Linked DNA regions of Homo sapiens: region 2 is linked to region 1. The links come from fine-mapping of genetic effects on gene expression. Tissue or cell type: skeletal muscle. Region 1 holds a variant in brackets; the other region holds the start of a gene. All regions are shown on one strand. Distances are between the middles of the regions.

Region 1 (5,328 bases):
TAGCAATTAACTCTGGAGGAAAAATAATCTGGGTCTCATTTTGCTTTAAGCATAACTCTTACTATTGAAAGCAGTCCTCCTGCAGTAATTACATCAATTTAGTAAAAAAGGAGGACCATCTTCTTCTGCATGCGAGTCTAGGTGATACCTACCTGTTGCTGGAACAGTTTCATTGGTGAGATCTTTAATAGTAATACTAGTATCTTAAAACACATTGTGGCAATGATTAGATTTATCTATACCTCATTTCCGTGAAGTTGGCAGAATGAAAGGAGGATAATGTTTTTATAGTAGAAAGCAGTAAAACAGACAACTTGGGAATAAAAATGATTGCTCATGTTTCAAGCTGGCCAGCAAGAAGTGACGATCTAAATATAAGAGTAGCTCTGGTTATTTAACTATAACTACAAGTTACTTAGGGAAAAAAAGTCATCCTCAAGGGCCCCTTCCAAGCAATTAAAGTTTGTCTTTGCAATGTGCTAGTGGGGCATCCTCTTTGGTACTGTATATAACATAGCTCTGTAGTATGTTATCCAGATTATTTTCTATTAGCATATCTATCAGGGTTAACTTCATTGCAGCTAGCAGGAAAAATAATGCAAACTGTTTTAAGATTGTTTTAAAAAATAATGTATTGGCTCCTGTAATGAAAAAGCAGAGATCATCTCATCAAGATTACTTAATCAGAGACTCAAGGAGTGCTATCTGGACCCAGTTTCCCTAAGTCTCTGAAAACTACTTTCCTGGGTGTTGGTTCTTTCCAGGTTATATATTGTATTAGTTTCCTAGGGCTGCTCTAACAAACTATCACAATAGAATGTACCCTCCACAGTTCTGGAGGTGAGAAGGGCGAAATCAAGCTGCTAGCAGGATGATGCTCCCTGGGAAGGCTCCAGAGGGGGAACTGTATCATACTTCCTCTCTTGCTTCTGATGGCACCTGTCAGTACTTTGGCATCCTTGGCTTTCAGCTGCACCACGCCAATACCTGACTCTTTGATCATGTGGTCTCTATCCTCTATCTCTGCATCTCTGAATTTCTCTCCTTGTAAGATGCCCAGTCATTGGACTTAGGGACCACCCAATCCAGTTATATTTTATCTTAATGGGATTACATCAGCAAACCCTATTTCTTTTCTTTTTATAACTTAAAGTTTTATTTTAGATTCAGGAGGAATATGTGCAGGTTTGTTACGTGGGTGTATCACATGATGGCGAGATTTGGGGTACAAATGATTCCATCACCCAGGTAGTGAGCATAATACTCAACAGTTAGTGTTTCAACTCTTCTCCCCAACCTCCCTCTTCCCTCTATTAGTCCCCAGTGTATGTTGCTGCCATCTTTATGTTCATGTGTACCCAATGTTTAGCTCCCACTTATAAGTGAGAATATGCAGTGTTTGGTTTTCTGCTTCTGCATTAATTCACTCAGGATAATGGCCTCCAGTTGCATCCATGTCACTGCAAAGGACATTATCTTGTTCTTTTTTATGGCTGTGTAGTATTCCATGATGTATATGTACCACATTTTCTTTATCCAATTGACCACTGATGGGCACTTAAGTTGATTTAGTATTTTTGCTATTGTGAATAATGCTGCAATGAATATACGAGTGCCATGTGTCTTTTTGGTACAATGATTTATTTACTTTTGAATATATACTCAGTAACGGGATTGCAGAGTCAAATGGTAGTTCTGTTTTAAGTTCTCTGAGAAATCTCCAAACTGCTTTCCATAGGCTAGACTAATTTACATCCCCACCAACTGTATATAGGCATTCCCTTTTCTCTGCAGCAGCTCCAGAATGTGGTTGTGTTTTTTTTGACTTTCTGATAATAGCCATTCTGACTGGTGTGAGATGATAGCATATTGTGGTTTTGATTTGCATTTCTCTGATGATTAGTGATGTTGAGCATTTTTTCGTATGTTTGTTGGCCACTTGTATGTCTTCTTTTGAGAAGTGTCTGTTCATGTCTTTTGCCCACTTCTTAATGGGGTTCTTTTTTGTTTTTTGAAATATAATTTTTACAGATTCTGTATATTAGTAATATGTTGAATACATAGTTGGTGAATATTTTCTCCCATTCTTTAGATTCTCTGTTTACTCTGTTGATAGTTCATTTTCCTGTGCTCCAGCTCTTTAGTTTAATTAGGTCCCACTTGTCAATTTTTGTTTTTGTTGCAATTCCTTTTGAGAACTTAGTTATAACTTTTTTCTCAAGGCCAATTTTTTCTCAATGTCAAGAATGATATTTTCTAGGTTTTCTTATAGGATTTTTATAGTGTGAGGTCTTATATCGAAATTTTTAATCCATCTTGAGTTAATTTTTGTCTATAGTATTAGATAGTGCTCCAGTTTCATTCTTCTGCATATGACCTACTAGCTATCCCAGCACCATTTATTGAATAGGGAATCCTTTCCCCATTATTTATTTTTGTTGATTTTGTTGAAGATCAGCTGGCTGTAAGTGTACAGCTTTATTGCTGGGTTCTCTATTCTGTTTCATTTTTGTATCTGTTTTTTGTACCAGTACCATGCTGTTTTGTCTACTGTAGCCTTACTGTATAGTTTGAAGTCAAGT[A/C]ATGTGATGCTTCCAGCTTTGTTCTTTTTGTTTAGAATTGCTTTGGCTATTCAGGCTCCATTTTGGTTCCATATGAATTTTAGAACAGTTTTTTCTAATTCTGTAAAAAATGACATTGGTAGTTTGATAGGAATAGTATTGAATGTATACATTGCTTTGGGTAGTATGGCCATTTTAACAATATTGATTCTTCCAATTCTTGAGCATGGAATGTTTCCCCATTTGTTTCTGTCATCTATGATTTCTTTCAGCAGTGTTTTGTAGTTCTCCTTGTGGAAGTCTTTCACTTCTTTGGTTAAATGTATTCCTAGGTATTTTATTTTTTGTGTAGCTATTGTAAATGGGATTGCATTCTTGATTTGTCTCTCAGATTGAATGCTATTGCTGCATAGATATGCTACTGAGTTTTGTACCTTTATTTTATATCCTGAAACTTTATTGAAGTCGTTTATCAGTCCCAGGAGGCTTTTGGTGGAGTCTTTGAGTTTTCTAGGTATAAGATTATATCGTCAGTGAAGAGAGACCATTTGGCTTCTTATTTTGCTATTTGGATGCCTTTTATTTCTTTCTCTTGCCTGATTGCTCTGGCAAGGACTTCCAGTACTATGTTGAATAGGAGTGGTGAGAGTGGGCGTCCTTGTCTTGTTCCAGTTCCAGTTCTAGTTCTAGCATTCAAGGAGATGCTTCCAGCTTTTGCCTGTTTAGTGTGATGTTGGCTGTGGGTTTGGCATAGATGGCTCTTATTATTTTGAGGTATGTTCCTTCAATGCCTAGTTTGTTCAGAGTTTTTATCATGAAGGAAGGTTGGATTTTATCAAAGTCTTTTCCTCCCAAACCCCTATTTCCAGATAAAGTTACATTCGTGGATACTGAGCATTAGGATTTCAACATTTGGTTTTGGAGGACACAATTCAACCTACAATATATCCAATAACAAAACGAATGACAGCAGTGCATTGCCTATATATTCCTAGGTTCAAAGTCAGCAGAAAGAAGAGTATGTCTCTCTCCTAACCACTCAGGCAAAACCATGACCTGTCATTCACTGGCCCTAATGTGCTCATCCCTGAGCAGTCACCGTGACCAGAGGGATATGACACCGTGTTTGTCAGACATAAGTGCCCTGCCCAACACTGGAGCACCTAGGCCAAGCATGTAGGAAATGTAGGCTTTCCAGAAGAACATTAGAAATCATTACTAAAGAGTAATGGATACCGGATGGCCAAATAGTTCTTATACATCAAGACAATTTAAAATACGTCCAAGATAATATGATTAATAAAGTATAAATAAAGTAGATATAGCATAGACATGTGGTTACTCTTTACCCATGATGTATTATTTTTCTTTTATGTTTTGTTGAATCCCAGTTTTATTGAGGTATGATTGACTTACATTAATGTGCACATATGTAAAGTGTAAACTTGATGAGTTTTAACATATATGAAACCATTACCACATTCAAGATAATAACTATCTCTATCACCTGCAAAAGTTTTCTTACATCCTCTTGTAATCCACCCTCCCCTGCCCTGCCCATTCCTAGGAAGCTTAATCTGTTTTCTGTCCCTATAGATTAGTTTGCATTTTTAAGAATTTTATATAAATGGAATTATAAGTAGGTATTATTTTGCATCTAGGTTTTCTACTCAGCCTAGTTATTTTTGGTTCTATCCAAGTTGTTGTGTGTATAAATAGCTCATTCATTTTTATTGCTCAGTAGTATTCTATTGTATGGCTATACCACAGTTGGTTTGTTCATTCACGGTTTGTTTATCCATGGACATTTGGGTCATTTTCAGGTTTTAGATATTATAAAGAAAGATCTCAATTGGGAAACGCTTACTTAAAATTAGAATGTATTTTATTTAATTATGAATAAATTATGTGTAAGTGTAACGTTCGTTGCAATATTTATCTAAAATGCTGATAAAATTTTTTCCTTTTTCCTTTCCAGATACTGAGGAGAGCAGACAAAAATGGTAAGACCAAAAATCTACAGTATCTATTTATTAATCTCTTACATTTTATATTACCTTATAAATAATAATCAGGAAAAAGGGGACAGTCCGGGAAAATTACATATAAAATACTACCTTATTGTACTAGTGATCGTTTTAGATAAGTTTTAGGCCCTAAATATTCATAAGAAGTTGGCAGAAGGATTTACATTTGAAAGGAATGTTTATGCCTTTGAAGTGAGGAGCTCTGCCATATTTGGACTCTGGCTTTTCCTTTTCATGCACCAAAAAATAATTTTGCAGCAATAGCAGCTTCTATTCATTGAGTGTCTACTGTGTGCCAGGCATTGGGCCAAGTGCTTTGTGCATATTATGTCCTAGAATTATTACAATACAAAGCTGAGACTGGACCCCAGGTCTGTATGACACGCAAGTCTGGACTCTCCACACTGAGCTTTAACATGGCTTTGGAGATTTTACTGTACTCCAAGAGGTCTGCCTGGAAACCTGCATTGCTAGCTTTATCTCTACCCCATTGTTCCTGGCCACTGCTTTCCTATTTGAAGTGTATGCCCTGGAAATGATAATCTATAGCAACAGAGAAGTAGGAGATGGCAACCTCGAAGTAAAAACTTGCTCTGTTGATTTAATGATGACTGCACAACATCTAAGTTGTCATAAGCAGTATCTTTCGACTCTATTATTCCACTAGAAACTTTGTCCCAGAGAACACCAAATAAAAGCTTGTTTTGTTTTTGTTTTGTTTTGTTTTTCTTTTTGCTGCT
Region 2 (5,328 bases), 450 kb after region 1:
ACTAATGAGTTTAAGTTTGATATTGGAGATAACTGAAATTCAAACATATCAGTGATGTAATCAAAATGAGATTTTACAAAAAATCTTTCTGTTAATCCATGTATGAAGTAGAAGATAACAATTTCATCTTTTTATTTGTATAGGTATTATCCCAGATGTTTAGGAAGAGATATTCCATATAGATGGTACATACTGTTGAACTGTAAGCTACTTTTAGTCATTGAAACTTTTGAATGAATACACTTAGCATTCTTGAATTTTGCAGGCTGTTCAAGTTACTCTGAGAATCTTATGTGTGTGAATAAATTTCCTCATAATGTTTTTCTTTCTTTCTGGCATTGCTGATTATAAATAGGCATGATCCATGCTCTGGTTTGACATGTTTTAAATAATATGTATGCACATGGAAATTGAAAAAAAACATCTGGAATTGGAATTCCAGATTTAAGCTTCAAAAAAGATTTTTAGGAAAGATTCATTCTAATTTTAAGAAATTTTTAAATTGAGAGATTTCAGAACTATTTTGTTAATTTCTACCCTCTCTTGGTCTTGAAATGTTTTAGAACAATTGCTGGTGCTATATGATTTAGGTACTTCTATTTACCTTCAATTCATAAAATCCTGTTCATGTGAATTTTTTGTTATGGAATTTAACACAAATTTAAAAATGATTGAAATTACACAAATGATAGATGTTGATTGGTGATTTCAGTTAAGCTTTCAATTATTTTTCTCATATTGTTAACATACGTTAGAATTTATGACCTAGATAGGATTTGAAAAAAAATCTTGTGTTTATTTTTATTATAAAGGTAATACATAATCAGTGTATGTATAGCTTCTGAATTTCTTTGCGTATATAATAAATGGAGTATATAAAACAAAAGTAAAGATTGCTTTTTGTGAAGGAAAACCAATGTAATGTTTCAAGCATGAATTTACAATTATTTGGTGAGTTCATCTCTCATACCAAGAGGATAGGATTAAAATGCTACAACTTGGTCTCTAAATGGGGCTCTCTCTACAGGCCCCAAACCTGAACTATTGAATGGTTTAGAAATTTAATATAATGTAAAAACAGTTGGACAAACAAAGCAGTTTCTATTTTGTAAGTATAAATAAATTCCCCCCCACCCCGCTGCGTCTCTTCGTTGGATTTAAAAAGAAAGGTATTTTTGCACAGACACAAAGCTAGAGATGTCATCTTTAGAAGATGGAGAGCAACTCTTCACTTTAATTTAAAAACAAAGGGAAAAAGTGCAGCAGGAGGGATCCAAGTACTTTGTTATTATAAAGGCTTCCAGAAATCAGATTTCTATTCTCCAAACAAATGGGCATTAAAAAGGACTCAGCAAACTATATACATGGTATTCTTTTCCTTGGCTACACAATTTTAGTTAGTATGTTGCCTTTTTGGTTTAATTCCAATGGCACAGTTCATAGATTTAAGTTTTTCTTTTTCTTTTGGAGGCTAAGCAAAATGATCATAAAATAAAAATCTTTGACAGTCTGTTCTATTATAAAATGTAACACCCCTTATTAAAAAGAGAACACCTACCCCCAAAAGTTATACAAAAAGAAGGCAGCACCATAAAAAAAGCTAAGGATACTTCAAACAATAGTTTGAACCATATAACATTCCTCAGTAAATTTCAGTTACAGTAGAATGAATTATAGGACTTAGAGAAACCATCAGAGAAAACTGAATGAACAGTTTCAGAGACAGGGAAGATCTCCTGTCACAAATATGTGCTCATTGTGATACTTATTCTCTTAGCCCATGAGATGAAATTTCAGTTTGTTTATGAGAACTAGTTACTCCTTTCCCAGACTGGGCAGTAGCTATCTGAATGTTTCTGTATGAATGAAAACCTCATCTGCCAGGGAATAAAAATGGTAAGGACCTTTAGCAATGCCCTGTTATGTTTCTGAATTTTGTAGAACTGGCAGTCATCTGATAATGTTGAAAATATATAGCTCTCAAAGAAATAGGGCTGGATTCTCTGAATATATTTTGCACAATAGATCCCTCTGGCAGTTTTATGATTTTGCACAGCTTGTAGAGAGAGACTGGACTAGCTGGATATTTCCTGGTTTCATTAGCATAGCCCAGCCCACTTCCAACACACGCCCAGAACTACCTCATTAACCATTGGGATTGCAGCCAAAAACATAAGACTACAGTGAATATAAGGGGAATTACTGGCGAGAGAGCTGTAGACCAACTTAACACTGAACCCATTACTTTTCCAAGACCAGAAAAAAATATTACATGAACAGGAACTACTTCTCCTTCAGATAAGAATTCAAGGTTTTAATCTATAGTTTTTAAATCTAGAATAATTAGCTGTATCATAAAAAGACAGCTGCATATATTGAAGTGCTTCTGTTAATCTCTCTCTCTCTCTCTCTTTTATTTACTTATTTTCTGGGCAGCTTTGACATTGTAAACCACAGACGAATTGGAGCTTGGCATTGAAAGGAGGTGTTCTGCAATGATTTTTTTTCTTGTTTAGAGAAGTTTACTTCTACAAGAAGAAATCTGAAAAATGACAGGAGCAAAGAGGAAAAAGAAAAGCATGCTTTGGAGCAAGATGCATACCCCCCAGTGTGAAGACATTATACAGTGGTGTAGAAGGCGACTGCCCATTTTGGATTGGGCACCACATTACAATCTGAAAGAAAACTTGCTTCCAGACACTGTGTCTGGGATAATGTTGGCAGTTCAACAGGTGACCCAAGGTAATGTATTGCATTTGAGTTTCCTGTATTATGCAGAGTAGATGTCACTTTGCTTCCTTGGAATAATACTATGACCTAGAATAAACAATTTAGCTAAATAAATGGATATTAGCTGTGGGGAAACAAGCATATTGGATATATTTGGAGAAGAGTTTTCCTAATTGTCTTTTTTCCTCTGTATTTTGATAGCTATTAAGCATTGAATAAACTTTTGAATGACATTACATTTTTTCACTGTTAAAATTCACACTGTTTTAGAGTGAAAGATTAGTAATTATGGGAGTGTGAGTTTTTATAACATGATCTTATGGATATAGTTGCCTACTTTCACTGAATCAAGCTATAAAATACTCCTGGCTTGAACACAATCGTTTTGGAACCTAATTAGCAGCACACAATTACCTGTTGTAGCCTTGAGAGTTGCTATAAACAAGGAACAAAGCTTTCTGTACATAAAGGAGGCTCTTTGCCAAGATTGGTATTTGCAAAGAGAATCCTGTGTGTCCTGAGAGCTTATGTTTTACTGTCTATGCTGATTTACTTCTGTATCACATTACCTACTACATCTATTTCTCAGTAAGATATTTAAACTGGTGAGAAGTCTGATTTTAACTTTCCCCAAAACAGACTAAATGATATTCTGGATTTAGATAGGTGTTTCTATTGGCAAAAGCTACCGACCTAGTGTGCATGTGTGTGTATTTGTTTGCCTTAAAGATATATCCATTGCAGTTCTTGGCTAATTCAAATAATTTTCTACCTGTAGCAAGGAAAGGAACTAATTTCTGAACCTTGAGAATTTAGAGCAGTTTCCTTGGCATAGACACTGCAGGCTTATATTTCCTTGCAGTTTCACTACCTCCTTGGCTTTAACTATTATTTACACTGTTAAATTATAAGCACTCTTTTAATTAAATTATTCTGTAGCTGGAACAAACTGGTTTGTGTATTTGTGTTTTTGGTATAATTAGGAACATCTGCACTAGTGACTTTAAGATCCATAATACTGTCATACTTTATAGGATTCCATTTTACTGAATAGTCTTATATTTTTAATGACCATTTTGCCAATAGAAATGCATAGTAATCTTTCAGAAAAATGCAAAGTAAATAACAGCTTTGGGCATTTTTGGACTTGCTTTTATTCAGTTTTAAATTCCAAATGAAACAATACCAATGTACTTTGAAAACTTAAGTGATGAATTTTTTTTTTAACCAGATAGTTTCAGCATGCTATAAATTTATTTTGCTTTAATTTAATGTAAAATGAAAGAGAATTATGTTTTTAAAAATAATTTCTTTTTTTACCTTTGGAAAATATCAAGTTAATAAGACAATTTGAGGATAAGATAAAGTTATCTATGGTGTATCATTAGTGATACTATTTATGTATAAGTTTCAGTAGTTAATTATATGGCTTTTATTTGGGTATAGATTTTGAGGGATTTTGTTTTACGAGTCATGTATTTCACTGGTTATGAAGGGACACATTGGCCAGCCCCAAGACTGATGAGAAGCACAACACATACTCAGCCCTTGTGTCTTGGGAAGTTATGAATCTGGCTGCTGATTCTCTTGGAAGGCTACCAGTGAATGGATAAGGCTGCACTACAAAAACGTTTTTGTTTGTGAAATTTAAGACTAATTATTTTTAAAATGTCTATTCTTTTAAAAACAATTTTCTCAAACTTTTTCATGCTCATCTACTACGTATAGACAGTTAAAAAGTGAAATGCCATAAGCTACCATTTGTTGTAAGAGGCAATGCCCTAAACCCTTACATACATTATCTCCCCCTATCCTAACAGAATCCCAAGACACAGCAGTCTCCTCTCCATTTTCCACAGGAGAAAATGGAGGTTTAGAAGAGTTAGAAATTTTCCCTGGACGTCATACCTGATAAGTAGTGGAGTCAGGACTTGATTCCAAAGCCAACACTCAACATTTTCACTTTATAGTCTACACTGCCAAAATAACAAGACTTTTCATAACACCAATGTTATTAGTAATAGAAGACATTTCTTTGGAAAGGTGTGACTATCCTTCCCTTCAAATTGCTTTTGCATTCAGGTTTCATCCCTGCAGTTTTTAGATTCAAAGGCAAAGTGACAAGAAAAATAACTAGAATAGGATACAGAGTAAGGAAGGCATTTAGATATCATTACCTCTTGTTTGTCTGAATACAATATTGGCAATTATTATCAGCTCAATTTTCTAAGGAAAATTAGAAGAAAGAGGGATAATTTTTGTTCTTGCATCATAACGCAAACAATAGGCTCAAGCACCTTTTTTTAGCTTTACCCATTTTTGTAGCAGCTTTTCAGTTACTCAGCATAGTTGAATTATATAAAATTGTCCAATTTACTGTTTCTTGACCTACAAAGATAGAATGTTTATGTTTCAATCTAGTAGTTGTTTTTCGTTCTTCTTTCTCAAGGAGTGCATTTAAATTAAGGATAATGGAAATTCATTTGAGTGTTTTCTATATGTCAAATAGCAAGAAGCTGTTTTAAATTATTTTAATAAAGTAAATCTTTACTTTATTAAAGATTTCCTAATTGTTAAATATAGATGCTTTTCTATTAT

Which allele goes with the higher level. Alleles are on the strand shown, and positions count from the first base shown. SD is a standard deviation of normalised expression in the study named.
In carriers of allele A in region 1, the expression in skeletal muscle of the gene that starts at base 2,217 in region 2 tends to be lower than with C alone (large effect, 2.4 SD a copy in FUSION).

What was found. PIP is the estimated chance that this variant, and not a neighbour inherited with it, causes the effect.
Region 2: it holds the start of SLC26A7, and the variant in region 1 is fine-mapped to the expression of SLC26A7 in skeletal muscle (FUSION, PIP 0.91).

Annotation. Positions count from the first base shown.
Region 1 is chr8:90,797,152-90,802,479 of GRCh38, forward strand. It overlaps NECAB1 (N-terminal EF-hand calcium binding protein 1), which reads left to right. Exons shown (of 13, transcript NM_022351.5): 2 at 4,540-4,564. Among named protein-coding and RNA genes, the nearest start is that of NECAB1, 8.0 kb to the left of the region's middle. The variant A/C (reference allele first, on the strand shown) is at 2,583.
Region 2 is chr8:91,247,103-91,252,430 of GRCh38, forward strand. It overlaps SLC26A7 (solute carrier family 26 member 7), which reads left to right and starts at 2,217. Exons shown (of 19, transcript NM_052832.4): 1 at 2,217-2,311; 2 at 2,437-2,742. The coding sequence starts at 2,550.